Homo sapiens: one gene and its partners. The protein of the gene in region 1 purifies or fractionates together with the protein of each later gene. This does not show direct contact. Each region holds a gene or a part of one and is shown in the gene's direction. Other genes may lie near its edges.

What was found. Proteins that work in one complex are often made in the same cells at the same time.
Region 2: the proteins of ARMC12 (region 1) and SEPTIN7 purify together in Homo sapiens (affinity purification with mass spectrometry, with the first as the bait; one large-scale study listed by BioGRID). This does not show direct contact.
Region 3: the proteins of ARMC12 (region 1) and FLG2 purify together in Homo sapiens (affinity purification with mass spectrometry, with the first as the bait; one large-scale study listed by BioGRID). This does not show direct contact.
Region 4: the proteins of ARMC12 (region 1) and ADAT3 purify together in Homo sapiens (affinity purification with mass spectrometry; one large-scale study listed by BioGRID and IntAct). This does not show direct contact.

Annotation. Positions count from the first base shown.
Region 1 is NC_000006.12:35,735,532-35,739,831, forward strand, and holds the start of ARMC12 (armadillo repeat-containing protein 12), read left to right. Parts: upstream 1-1,500; 5' UTR 1,501-1,577; coding exon 1,578-1,740; coding exon of another isoform or gene 1,741-1,821; intron 1,822-2,467; coding exon of another isoform or gene 2,468-2,495; coding exon 2,496-2,641; intron 2,642-2,852; coding exon 2,853-2,987; intron 2,988-4,300. UniProt on the Homo sapiens protein: Essential for male fertility and sperm mitochondrial sheath formation. Required for proper mitochondrial elongation and coiling along the flagellum during the formation of the mitochondrial sheath.
Region 2 is NC_000007.14:35,807,557-35,811,056, forward strand, and holds part of SEPTIN7 (septin-7), read left to right. Parts: intron 1-3,500.
Region 3 is NC_000001.11:152,353,507-152,357,006, reverse strand, and holds part of FLG2 (filaggrin-2), read left to right. Parts: coding exon 1-3,500. UniProt on the Homo sapiens protein: Essential for normal cell-cell adhesion in the cornified cell layers. Important for proper integrity and mechanical strength of the stratum corneum of the epidermis.
Region 4 is NC_000019.10:1,911,173-1,913,947, forward strand, and holds the end of ADAT3 (probable inactive tRNA-specific adenosine deaminase-like protein 3), read left to right. Parts: intron 1-717; 5' UTR 718-875; coding exon 876-1,979; 3' UTR 1,980-2,275; downstream 2,276-2,775.

The DNA of each region.
Region 1 (4,300 bases):
CTACCTCCTTCCATCCTGGGTGCAGCCCAGGACCCAGAGCCTTCTGTCCCAGTTCTCCCAAAAAGGGATCAGGGCCAGGTAGGTGAACACCTGTTCTGGTGCAGCATGCTCAGCACTGGCTGTGGGCGTGGCCCTAGTTTGGAGCTGGCCACTTGCCTGTTCTGCAACAGAGAGTGGGGACAGAAGTTGCGGGGAGACCCTGGTGGGGAAGAGGGAAGGGTCTGGTCTCACCTGCCCCATCCTAGTGGTGGGGATCAAGACCTCCACAGGTGGGCTCACATCCTCTGGGGTGGTGGCATCTTCTGACTCCAGAGGACCTCACAAGCCGCCTCATATCCCTGGGGAGGCTGAGAGGTGATACTTCCAAATTTAGCTGAAAGGCACAGACTTACCCACATTTTAATCCTGGAGTTTTAGAATGGTAAATCCGAATCCCTTTAGGTTACAAATGCAGAAACAGACTAAGGCAAAGGCGATCCCTTTCTCCTCCAAGGTCACTCTGGTTAGAAGGGTCTGGAGCCCCAGTTACTAGATGCTGTCATTGTTCTGCCGCCAAGTCCTTAAAGAATGGCAGAACATGACTTAAACCACCTGCTAAGTACAAGATTCTATGCTGGAGATGCAAAGGTAGCTGTCCTCAAGAGCACTTTGTCAAACAGGTAAACTTCAGGGCAACATGCAGATGCTGGAAAAGGGTGGATTTGCCTCAAGAGTCTGTGCATGCTTTCTAAGATACTCCCCTCCTTTTCATCCTCTGATGCGGGGAGGGAACCCTACCTGAAGAAACACCCCAAGGCCCAGGGGTAGATCTAGGGTGGAGAGATCACATATGGGAGGGCCCGGAAAGAAAAGGAACAGGGTTGTCAATGGGCATACCCCAAACACCTCACCCAGAAATGCCCTAAGGCCCCAGCCCGGAAATGGACCTCTGCTGCCCTCTAATGGTGGAAAGGCAGCCTCTGGAGCTACCTGCTGGGGTCCCCCCTTAAAGAAGAGGAGATGTGAAGGACACTTCTGCCCTCTCCCCTTTTATTCCCCTTCTGTCTTATGCTTCATCTCCTGTGGTCTCTAAAGCAGAACCTTCTCTTTTTTTTTTTGAAATGGAGTCTTGCTCTGTCGCTTAGGTTGGAGTACAGTGGCGTGTCAGCTCACTGCAACCTCAACCTCCCAGGCTTAAGCGATTCTCCTGCCTCAGTCCCCTGAGTAGCTGGGATTACATGTGTGCGCCACAATGCCTGGCTAATTTTTTTGTATTTTTAATAGAGACAAGGTTTCACCATATTGGCCAGGCTGGTCTCGAACTGCTGACCTCAAGTGATCTGCCTGCCTTGGCCTCCCAAAGTGCTGGGATTACAAGTGTGGGCCATGGTGCCTGGCCCCATCTGTTCTCGAGCACTCCTGGCTGCCCCATTTCCTGACCACTGCCCTCCATCCCATTATCTCCCCAGTTTCCTTTGTTGCCTAGGTTCCAATTCTGGTACCCTGGTTCCTGACCCTGCCAGAGTTCTGGTTCCGGAAGGCCCCCCACAGGTGCCTTGGGCCTAGCTCTCACCTGGGCCCAGGGCAACACTGAAGACATGGGCAAGAGCATCCCCCAATACCTGGGGCAACTGGACATCCGCAAAAGCGTAGTCAGCCTGGCCACAGGCGCCGGGGCGATCTACCTGCTCTACAAGGCCATCAAGGCTGGCATAAAATGCAAACCACCCCTCTGTAGCAACTCACCCATCTGCATCGCCCGTGAGTGTCCGGGCCCTGGGGAGAGGGCTCTGCCCCAGGAGGCACCTGCTCCCGAGGCCTCTGCTGTGGGAGGGCCCAAAGGTGATGCCTCCAAGTTCCTCTTTCCTTTGTCTTTCTCTTGTCCATCTTCCTCAAGCCCACCCTGCAGCGTCCTAGGCAAGGCCCTGCCAGAGATGCTAGCTCAGGGTCCCTGGATCTCACTCAAGTGGATCCTCAGACTCATCTGGCAGGTCTCCAAATACTACATTTCCTCTGGCTCCCAGGATTCCACTTCTTGGAAACTTGGTGTCGGCAGCTCCCCCCATCCCTTTTCTGCCCTAGGAACGTGAGGCTTTAAGGAAAGGGAAGATTGGAGGACTTACTATATGCCCAGAGCTTCCACTAGTCCACATGTTCTTTTGTGCAGAGTAGGAAAATGAGCCCCTTCTGCAAGACTCTTTATTGCCATCTGCTGGAATATCATTGCCACATACTGGTTATGATGAAATACTACTTGTTACCGCCATATGCCAGACAGTTGTTAGAGTAAATGGACAAATCTATGATGGTACGTTATGGACAATACAACATTAGATAGGGTGCCCTTGTGCAGTAAACATTCGTTCAACTGTACATGGTGGTCCTGCATATGGCGAGAAGGCTTCTCCGAAAAGGCAAGGCAGCCTTGTCCCCAAGTCCCTGTCCCCTACTTCCCAACCCCATTCTTTCATCACTTCTGAGTCCACAGCCTGAACTGGGCTGGGGTGGCTGTCTAGGCCTGGCAGTCGAGCGAGAGCGGCACGGGCGGGACTCAGGTGAGCTCCGGAGGCTCCTCAACTCTTTGGAGTGCAAACAGGATGAGTATGCCAAGAGCATGATCCTGCACAGTATCACTCGCTGTGTGTACTTGCTGGAGGCTGAGGTAAGGGAAGCAGGAGGTCCCCCCTAGCCGGCCTGGCCCCTGGGGGTTACGGCCGATCCCTGCCCCTGGAATGGCCAGACTATATCCTGGGACCTCTCTCTGGCTGATAGCGGTGGGGGGGGGGTGTGCGGAGGGATCTTGGTGACATGGGGGGCAGTGGGCCCAGAACACCCGCTTCTCCTGCCTCTTCCATCTCTCCCCAATACTCCAGGCCTCTGCTTGTACTACGGATGACATCGTGTTGCTGGGCTACATGCTGGATGACAAGGACAACAGTGTCAAAACCCAAGCTCTGAATACACTTAAAGCTTTCTCTGGCATCAGAAAATTCAGGCTCAAAATCCAGGTGAGCCCAGGGATGCGTGGTGGGGCATGCAGGATGTCTATAGTCCTTAAGTCCTTTAATTGCCATAGGATAAATGGTCATGTTCCAGAAGTTTGTTTGGGTGTGAATTTGTAACCCAGAAATAAGTGGGAAAACGGTGGTCAGATTCCCAGCAGGGTCATGAAGGCCTTTGAATTTCAGGATGAAACTGAATTGAGGCACTAGTGGTATCTCTCAACCCCAAAGAGAAGGACCCCCACTACCCCACAAGCTCCCTACCACTGCCACGTTTTTTCTGACACCAATTCCCAACACTGGCTGGGTGTTCAACAATTCAATTCAGTTCAGACACTATCCATAGTTAGGGCAGACTTCACAGGTTAAGGGCTGAGTCCCCCAAGACTTCCCCCCGACTTCAGGTACCAATCATAGGTCTGACTTCTGACTGGCCCGCTATGAATTCGGGGGTTCCCACAACTCCCTTTTTAGATCTACTAATTTGCTAGAATGGCTCCCAGAACTCAGGAAAGGACTTTACTTACTATTACTGGTTTTTTATATAAAGGACACAACTCAGGAACAGCTAAACGGAGGAGACACATAGGGCAGGGTGTCAGGGCGCGGAGCTTCCAGGCCTGTTCCTGGACCAAACTGAGGGCTGGGCTGCTATTGCTCCTGGCCCAATAACGAGATGCAGATGAACTGGGGAGGAAGAGAGTTTTTATTTCTGTAACCGGTTACAGGGAGAAGGCCAGGAAATTATCGCTGGACCAACTCAAAATTACAAAGTTTTTCAGAACTTATATACCTTCTAAGCTATATGTCTATGTGTAAATGTGCATTCATCTAAAGACGTGATTAACTTCTTTTAATTTATAACTAAGGTCTGAGTCCTGAAGACCTTCCACTGGAGCCTCAGTAAATTTACTTAATCTAAATGGGTCCAGGTGCTGGGGTGATTACCCTTATTTTGTCTCTTGCTAAATCAAGGAGTTTTGAGGAATTCCTTCAGATCCCAATAAACTTGTTTGTGGAGACCTGTGGCGTTTCTTCAGATCCACAGTAAAACTTGTTTAATCCTAAATGGGTCCCATTAAGAATTCCTTCGTAATTTTGTCATGCTTTAAGGCCCAGGAAAGGCCTAGGCAAAACTCCTGGTGGGCTTTTGTTACATTCCAGCCTTTGTATAAGGGCACTGGCTTTTAACATTTAACTTAACCACGCAGTCAGTACTGAAACAGTTGTTATGGAGGCCTGCCACAAGCTCACTTCAGGAGTGCCCTGCTGTTCCCAGCACCTCCACACGTTCAGCAACCAGGAAGCTCTTTGAACCC
Region 2 (3,500 bases), on another chromosome or scaffold:
GTTTCACTGTGTTAGCCAGGATGGTCTCAATCTGCTGACCTCATGATCCGCCCGTCTTGGCCTCCCAAAGTGCTGGGATTACAGGCGTGAGCCACTGTGCCCTGCCAATTTTTGTATTTTTAGTAGAGACAGGGTTTCTCCACATTGGTCAGGCTGGTCTCGAACTCTCGACCTCAGGTGATCCACCTGCCTTGGCCTCCCAAAGTGATGGGATTACAGGTGTGAGCCACCGCACCTGGTTGCTTTTTAAAAATTTTATTGGGAGGTTTTTTGTTGTTGTTTTGTTTTTTTGAGACGGAGTCTTGCTCTGTCACCCAGGCTAGTGGCATGATCGTGGCTCACTGCAACCTCTGCCTCCTGGGTTCAAGTGATTCTCCTTCCTCAGCCTCCTAAGTAGCTGGGATTACAGGCACATGCCACCACGCCTAGCTAATTTTTGTATTTTTAGTAGAGACGGGGTTTCACCATGTTGGTCAGGCTGGTCTCTCCTGACCTCGTGATCTGCCTGCCTTGGCTTCCTAAAGTGCTGGGATTACAGGTGCAAGCCACCGCACCCAGCCTGGTTTTTTTTGTTGTTGTTTTTTTTAATAGGTAATATAATCACTTGGTTCAAAATTCAAAAGGTTAAACAGAGAGATACAGTGAAATCTCCTTCTTACTTCTACCCCCAAGTCACCCAGTTTCCTAGTCCTCGGCATCCTGTGTTAACAGTTTCTTGTATGTTCTTCCAAAGGTGTTTTTTGCATATGGAAGTTAAAAACATTTATCCTTCCTGCCCCCACCCTTGGTAGCATTAAGACACATTATTTCCCACATGTTTTTTTCCAATGAGTGTAATTTGGGTTATTCCGTATCAGTACATAAAGAGCATTCTTATTCTTTTATACAGCTGCATAACCGTTACATGATATCTCAGTCTGTTTGTGCTGCTCCAACAAAATACCTGAGACTGGGTAATTTATAAGGAACAGAAATCTATTTCTTACCATTCTGGAAGCTAGGAAGTCTAAGATCACAGTGCCAGCAGGTTTGGCGTCTCTGCTTCCAAGATGGCACCTTAAATGCTACTTCCTTTGGAGGGAACAAATGCTGTGCCCTAACATAGTAGAAGGAGCAAAAGGGTCAAGCACCTCCCTTGCACCTCTTTTATAAGGTCATTAATCCTATTAATACCATTACTAGTGATTAAGTATCAACATACAAATTTTGGGAGAACACATTAAGACCATAGCATATGGATAGATCATGATATGGGATATATTTTGATTTGTTTAACATGTCTGCCTCTGATAGACATTAATTTCCAGTGTTTTGCTATTACCAACTTTGACATGGTGAGTCACTTGGGATATTGATCTCTTCACATTTGTTAGTGTATCTAACAAATACACTAACTGTTAGTTTTTGAACTCTTTGAAGCAGGAGACTACCACTTAAAAGTTGTAGTATTGACATTGTCATTATATCAATAATGTATTGATGTTATAGTATCATAACATTGATGTTAAGTATTGGTAATATTGCTGTTAAGTCATTAGTTTAGAACTTCAACAATCAAGTTCATTCACTTAACAAATACACGTTTTGTACTTGCTGTGTGCTGGCCACTGGGGAAACTGAATTAAATGCTGTGGCAGTTGAAATAGAGGCATGGTGATTAAGAGTTTTCGGATCTAGAGTCAGACTTGGATTCATATCTCAGTTCTAAAGCTTAACTGAACCTTTGGCAAATAACAGAACTTCTATTTTTCCTTCTCTGTAATGTGGGAATCATAAGGTTATTGGAGAAGTAAATGAGATAGTACATGACAAATCCTTAGCATGATGCCTGGCATATAATAAACACTGAGATGTTAGCTTAAAAAAAGTTATCAGACTATATTGCAGTTGACTTTATGTTCTGCCTCCACTGTGCTTAAAGTCTAGGCCTGTGTTTTGTTCACCTTTGTGTCCCCAACCCATAACTGGCTTGCATTTAGTAAAAAATTTGTGATACGATATAAAGGTATGCAGAGCATACAGTGAAAGTTCAAAGCAGGATACCTTTTCCATGCTGGAGAAGGTGAATCTTTGAAAGTCGGTAGGAGTGATTAGGTAAAGGAGGTGAAGGAGTAAAGATAATTATTCTAGACTGAGAAATTATGTTAGTATCAGGTTATGAGGTTAGAAGAGGTAAGTAGGCAACTGGTATTGCTGTGCTGAGAATTTAAAAATCTTTATTGAAGGCTTTAAAAGAAAAGTGGTAATCGTAAGAATCGTGATGATAATTCTCTCTGTTGAGAGTTGACAGGGCACCAGGTTGGAGCCATTAAATTGAAGGAGTTTAATGTAGCAGTTTAGGACTAAAAATTGGTCAGAAGCAGGGCAATGGGAAAGGACATGAGGGGGATGGTTGTAAGGTGTTAGGGAAGATGTGGGTGGTGAGTAATGAGTCCAGAATATTTGAGCTTTCTGACTTGAGTGAATGGGTAGATGAATAGATGCTATTTCTTGAAATAGGTAATTTGAAACATGAAATTGAGAGGCCTGGGGGACATCCAAGTGGACATGTCTTGTAGGGTCTCAATACTAGGAAGACATCTAGGATAGAAAATAAACATTTTCTGATAATTGTAAATGTATTCATTTGTGCTTTGAATTTTTATGTTTAGTAAGTGAGTTTGTGAACAGAGTTGAAGGAAATTACAATAAAGTGATTTGTGTGAAACTTCGTTGTCCTTCAAATATAGACTGAGGTCTCCAGTTTCTGGGGTAGTACTAAAATGTTTCCTTTTTTTTTTTTTTTGAGATGGAGTCTTGCTCTGTCACCCAGGCTATAGTGCAGTGGCGCGATCTCAGCTCATTGCCAGCTCCGCCTCCCACGTTAACGCCATTCTTCTGCCTCAGCCTCCCGAGTAGCTGGGACTACAGGCGCCCGCCACCACACCTGGCTAATTTTTTGTGTTTTTAGTAGAGCCTGGGTTTCACCGTGTTAGCCAGGATGGTCTCAATCTCCTGACCTCATGATCCGCCCGCCTTGGCCTCCCAAAGTGCTGGGATTACAGGCGTGAGCCACCGCGCCCAGCCAGATGTTTACTTATTTAAAATTTCAGCTGGTACGTTTCACAGCAGCAGTTGCTTCAGACTCAGGGTTATGCTAGTGTTTCTTTGCAGGAGTGACATTTTGTATCCTTATATATTGTTATTGTCCATTCAGATTGTAATGAGTTAATGAGTTTTTTTTTTTTTGAGACAGAGGCTCGCTCTGTCGCCCAGGCTGGAGTGCAGTGGTGAGACAGAGGCTCACTGCAACCTCCACCTCCCTGGTTCAAGCAATTCCTCTGCCTCAGCCTCCCGAGTAGCTGGGATTACAGGCACATGCCACCACGCCTGGCTAATTTTTTTGTATTTTTAGTAGAGACGGGGTTTCACCATGTTGGCCAGACTGGTATCGAACTCCTGACCTGAGGCAATCTGCCCACCTTGGCCTCCCAAAGTGCTGGGATTACAGGCATGAGCCA
Region 3 (3,500 bases), on another chromosome or scaffold:
ACAAAAGCTTGGGTCTAGCTGTTCAGGTTCAGGAGACAGTGGGAGGCGAAGTCATGCATGTGGTTATAGCAATTCAAGTGGGTGTGGAAGGCCACAAAATGCTTCAAGTTCTTGTCAGTCACATAGATTTGGAGGGCAAGGAAATCAATTTAGCTATATTCAGTCAGGCTGTCAGTCAGGAATTAAGGGAGGACAAGGCCATGGCTGTGTCTCAGGAGGTCAGCCCTCTGGATGTGGTCAACCTGAGTCTAACCCCTGTAGTCAGTCCTATAGTCAGAGAGGATATGGAGCTAGAGAAAATGGTCAACCACAGAACTGTGGAGGACAATGGAGAACAGGCTCAAGTCAGTCCTCTTGCTGTGGACAATATGGGTCTGGAGGTAGCCAGTCTTGTAGTAATGGTCAACATGAATATGGTTCCTGTGGCCGCTTTTCAAACTCTTCTAGTTCAAATGAATTTTCCAAATGTGATCAATATGGGTCTGGTTCAAGTCAGTCTACTAGCTTTGAACAACATGGAACAGGCTTGAGTCAGTCCTCTGGGTTCGAACAACATGTATGTGGCTCAGGTCAAACTTGTGGCCAGCATGAGTCTACATCAAGTCAATCCTTGGGCTATGACCAGCATGGGTCTAGCTCAGGTAAGACATCTGGCTTTGGACAACATGGGTCTGGCTCAGGTCAGTCCTCTGGCTTTGGACAATGTGGGTCAGGCTCAGGTCAGTCCTCTGGCTTTGGACAGCATGGGTCTGTCTCAGGACAATCCTCTGGTTTTGGACAGCATGGGTCTGTCTCAGGACAATCCTCTGGTTTTGGACAACATGAGTCTAGATCACGTCAGTCTAGCTATGGCCAACATGGTTCTGGCTCAAGTCAATCATCTGGCTATGGCCAATATGGGTCTAGAGAGACATCTGGCTTTGGACAACATGGGTTGGGCTCAGGTCAATCCACTGGCTTTGGCCAATATGGATCGGGCTCAGGTCAGTCCTCTGGCTTTGGACAACATGGGTCTGGCTCAGGACAATCCTCTGGCTTTGGACAACATGAGTCTAGATCAGGTCAGTCTAGTTATGGCCAACACAGTTCTGGCTCAAGTCAGTCATCTGGCTATGGCCAACATGGGTCTAGACAGACATCTGGCTTTGGACAACATGGGTCAGGCTCAAGTCAATCCACTGGCTTTGGCCAATATGGATCAGGCTCAGGTCAGTCCTCTGGCTTTGGACAACATGTTTCTGGCTCAGGACAATCCTCTGGTTTTGGACAACATGAGTCTAGATCAGGTCATTCTAGCTATGGCCAACATGGTTTTGGCTCAAGTCAATCATCTGGCTATGGTCAACATGGGTCAAGTTCAGGACAGACATCTGGATTTGGACAACACGAGTTAAGCTCAGGTCAGTCTTCCAGCTTTGGCCAACATGGATCAGGCTCAGGTCAGTCCTCTGGCTTTGGACAACATGGGTCTGGCTCAGGACAATCCTCTGGCTTTGGACAACATGAGTCTAGATCAGGTCAGTCTAGCTATGGCCAACACAGTTCTGGCTCAAGTCAGTCATCTGGCTATGGCCAACATGGGTCTAGACAGACATCTGGCTTTGGACAACATGGGTCAGGCTCAAGTCAATCCACTGGCTTTGGCCAATATGGATCAGGCTCAGGTCAGTCCGCTGGCTTTGGACAACATGGGTCTGGCTCAGGACAATCCTCTGGCTTTGGACAGCATGAGTCTAGATCACATCAGTCCAGCTATGGCCAACATGGTTCTGGCTCAAGTCAATCATCTGGCTATGGTCAACATGGGTCAAGTTCGGGACAGACATCTGGCTTTGGACAACACAGGTCAAGCTCAGGTCAATACTCTGGCTTTGGACAACATGGATCAGGCTCAGGTCAGTCCAGTGGCTTTGGACAACATGGGACTGGCTCAGGACAATACTCTGGTTTTGGACAACATGAGTCTAGATCACATCAGTCTAGCTATGGCCAACATGGTTCTGGCTCAAGTCAGTCATCTGGCTATGGTCAACATGGGTCAAGTTCAGGACAGACTTTTGGATTTGGACAACACAGGTCAGGCTCAGGTCAATCCTCTGGCTTTGGCCAACATGGATCAGGCTCAGGTCAGTCCTCTGGCTTTGGACAACATGAGTCAGGCTCAGGAAAATCCTCTGGCTTTGGACAGCATGAGTCTAGATCAAGTCAGTCTAATTATGGCCAACATGGTTCTGGCTCAAGTCAGTCATCTGGCTATGGTCAACATGGGTCTAGTTCAGGACAGACAACTGGCTTTGGACAACACAGGTCAAGCTCAGGCCAATACTCAGGCTTTGGACAACATGGATCAGGCTCAGATCAGTCCTCTGGCTTTGGACAACATGGGACTGGTTCAGGACAATCCTCTGGTTTTGGACAATATGAGTCTAGATCACGTCAGTCTAGCTATGGCCAACATGGTTCTGGCTCAAGTCAATCATCTGGCTATGGTCAACATGGGTCAAATTCAGGACAGACATCTGGATTTGGACAACACAGGCCAGGCTCAGGTCAGTCCTCTGGCTTTGGCCAATATGGATCGGGCTCAGGTCAGTCTTCTGGCTTTGGACAACATGGGTCAGGCACAGGTAAATCCTCTGGCTTTGCACAGCATGAGTACAGATCAGGTCAGTCTAGCTATGGCCAACATGGTACTGGCTCCAGTCAATCATCTGGCTGTGGCCAACATGAGTCTGGCTCAGGTCCAACCACAAGTTTTGGACAGCATGTGTCTGGCTCAGACAATTTCTCTAGTTCTGGACAACATATATCTGACTCAGGTCAGTCCACTGGATTTGGCCAATATGGTTCAGGCTCAGGTCAATCAACTGGCTTGGGCCAGGGTGAATCTCAACAAGTAGAGTCAGGATCCACAGTTCATGGGAGACAGGAAACTACTCATGGTCAGACAATAAATACCACTAGACATAGCCAGTCTGGTCAAGGACAATCCACACAGACAGGGTCCAGGGTAACTAGAAGACGAAGATCTAGCCAAAGTGAGAACAGTGACAGTGAAGTGCACTCAAAGGTCTCACACAGACATTCAGAACACATTCACACACAAGCTGGATCTCACTACCCAAAGTCAGGATCCACAGTTCGCAGAAGACAAGGAACTACTCATGGACAGAGAGGAGATACCACTAGACATGGCCATTCTGGTCATGGACAGTCTACACAGACAGGTTCCAGAACATCTGGAAGACAGAGATTTAGCCACAGTGATGCCACTGACAGTGAAGTGCACTCAGGGGTCTCACATAGACCACACTCACAAGAACAAACTCACAGCCAAGCTGGATCTCAACATGGAGAGTCAGAATCCACAGTTCATGAGAGACATGAAACTACTTATGGACAGACAGGAGAGGCCACTGGACATGGCCACTCTGGTCATGGACAGTCCACACAGAGAGGGTCCAGGACAACTGGAAGAAGGGGATCTGGCCATAGTGAGT
Region 4 (2,775 bases), on another chromosome or scaffold:
GTTTTCATTTTTTTTTTGAGATGGCATCTTGCTCTGTCAGCCAGGCTGGGGTACAGTGGCACGATTGTAGCTCACTGCAGCCTTGAATTTCCGGCCTCAAGTGCTCCTCCTGTTTCAGCTTCTCGAGTAGCTGAAACCACCGGTGTGTGCCACCACGCCCAGCTAATTTTTTGATATTTAGTAGAAATGGGGTGTTGTTATGTTGCCTAGGCTGGTCTTAAACTCCTGGGCTCAAGTGATCCCCCCACCTCGGCCTCCCATAGTGCTGGGATTACAGGCGTGAGCCGCTGGTACCTAGCCATGAATTGTGCTTTTGAAAATGACCTGTCTTGGCTGGGCGCAGTGACTCACACCTGTAATCCCACCACCAGGTTGAAGCGGGTGGATCACGTGAGGTTAGGAGTTCGAGACCAGCCTGAACGACGTGGTGAAATCCCATCTCTACTAAAAATACACAAAAATTAGTCGGGCGTGGTGGCGCATGCCTGTAATCCCAGTTACTCTGGAGGCTGAGGCATGAGAATAGCTTGAACCCGGGAGGCGGAGGTTGCAGTGAGCTGAGATCATGCCACTGTACTCCAGCCTGGGCGACAGCGAGACTCCGTCTCAGAAGTAAAAAAATAAAATAAAAAAAAAAGAAAATGATCTGTCTTCTGGTAGGTGAATTATATCTTCGTTTTTAAAAACCAATGGCTGTTTAAACTCTGTGCACACCAGGGGTTAGCAGGACATGAGGGAGTGTAGCTCTGATGCGGTGACCTGGGCCGGAGCCCTCGGACTAGCCTCAGCTTTGGTGGCAGCACGCCCTGCCTTGTGGAGCCACGGCCTCCCGGGACGGACTCCCCGGCTCTCCCCCAGCCGCCCGCAGCCGCCGGATGATCCTCTGCTCCCGTCTCTGTCTCCCACAGTCGGCCTCGCTGAGGATGGAGCCCGCCCCGGGCCTCGTGGAGCAGCCCAAGTGCTTGGAGGCCGGGAGCCCGGAGCCTGAGCCGGCGCCGTGGCAGGCCCTCCCTGTCCTGTCCGAGAAGCAGTCAGGGGACGTGGAGCTGGTGCTGGCCTACGCCGCGCCCGTCCTGGACAAGCGCCAGACCTCACGCCTCCTGAAGGAGGTGTCGGCCCTGCACCCGCTCCCCGCCCAGCCTCACCTCAAGCGGGTGCGGCCCAGCCGCGATGCCGGCAGCCCCCACGCCCTGGAGATGCTGCTTTGCCTGGCTGGGCCGGCCTCGGGCCCGCGCTCGCTGGCTGAGCTCCTGCCACGGCCGGCTGTGGACCCCCGCGGCCTGGGGCAACCCTTCCTGGTGCCCGTGCCCGCCCGGCCGCCTCTGACCAGGGGCCAGTTCGAGGAGGCCCGGGCCCACTGGCCCACGTCCTTCCACGAGGACAAGCAGGTGACCAGCGCCCTGGCTGGGCGGCTCTTCTCCACGCAGGAGCGCGCCGCCATGCAGAGCCACATGGAGCGGGCGGTGTGGGCGGCCCGGCGGGCAGCAGCGCGGGGCTTGCGGGCCGTGGGGGCCGTGGTAGTGGACCCGGCCTCGGACCGCGTGCTGGCCACCGGCCACGACTGCAGCTGCGCGGACAACCCCCTCCTGCACGCCGTCATGGTGTGCGTGGACCTCGTGGCGCGCGGCCAGGGCCGCGGCACCTACGACTTCAGACCCTTCCCCGCCTGCTCCTTCGCCCCGGCCGCTGCCCCCCAGGCCGTCCGCGCAGGCGCCGTGCGTAAACTGGACGCAGACGAGGACGGCCTCCCCTACCTGTGCACTGGCTACGACCTGTACGTGACCCGCGAGCCCTGCGCCATGTGCGCCATGGCCCTGGTGCACGCACGCATCCTGCGCGTCTTCTACGGTGCGCCCTCGCCCGACGGCGCCCTGGGCACCCGCTTCCGCATCCACGCACGGCCCGACCTCAACCACCGCTTCCAGGTGTTCCGCGGGGTGCTGGAGGAGCAGTGCCGCTGGCTGGACCCCGACACGTAGGCGCCGCCCTCCTGCCTCCGGACCCTTCCCGCTCCCGGCCGTGGGGCGCCCCTCCTGGACTTCCGGGCCTCGATTTCTTCCGCACAAGCCTGACCGTGGATTTCAGGGACACATACCGCCTCCAGCGGGGAGCACGGGTGCTGCCTTCCGTGCGGATCGAGCTTTCCTGGACTCGGTCATTGGGGCCACCCCGTGCCAGCGGTGCCCTTCTGCGGCCGCCCTTGCTGCGTTTGTGTCCCCTCTGTCTCGCGGGCCGGGAAACTGCTCTGATGGGAAAATAAACAGCCCAAAACCAAGTGGGTGTCTGTTAGGAGGTGTGTGCCTTTGTGGCCAGGGTCCCGAGTGGGGTGGGGTCTGTACAGGGCCTGGTGGCTCAGCCGGAGGGGACCTGCTGAGCCACGTGTGGTCAGAGACCTGGGCTGATTCTGGGGTAGAGCAAGGCCCCCAGCTGCTGCCTCCTTTCCCGCTTCTGGAGTCCTGATGGTTCCAGGCGTGCCTGGCCCAAGTGTGTGGACACTAGGCGTAGTCCACAGGGCACCGACCCTAAGGAAGGGCCCTGGGATTTCGTGTCCTTCACAAGTGGCAACAGGGGACCCCAAAGGGCTGATGCTAGTCGGTCACAGCACAGTGAGGACTAGAGCCGTTTTTGCAGAACTTGGAGCAGGACCTGTGGGTCCACCCGGCAAGTGTCCATTGCCTGACCATGTGGGTGCAGCTTTGCCTCCAGACACGCCTGCTGTGAGCCCCCAGCCCATAGGGGAGGGGATCCGGCAGGTGGGGGCTCTGCGTGGGGAGC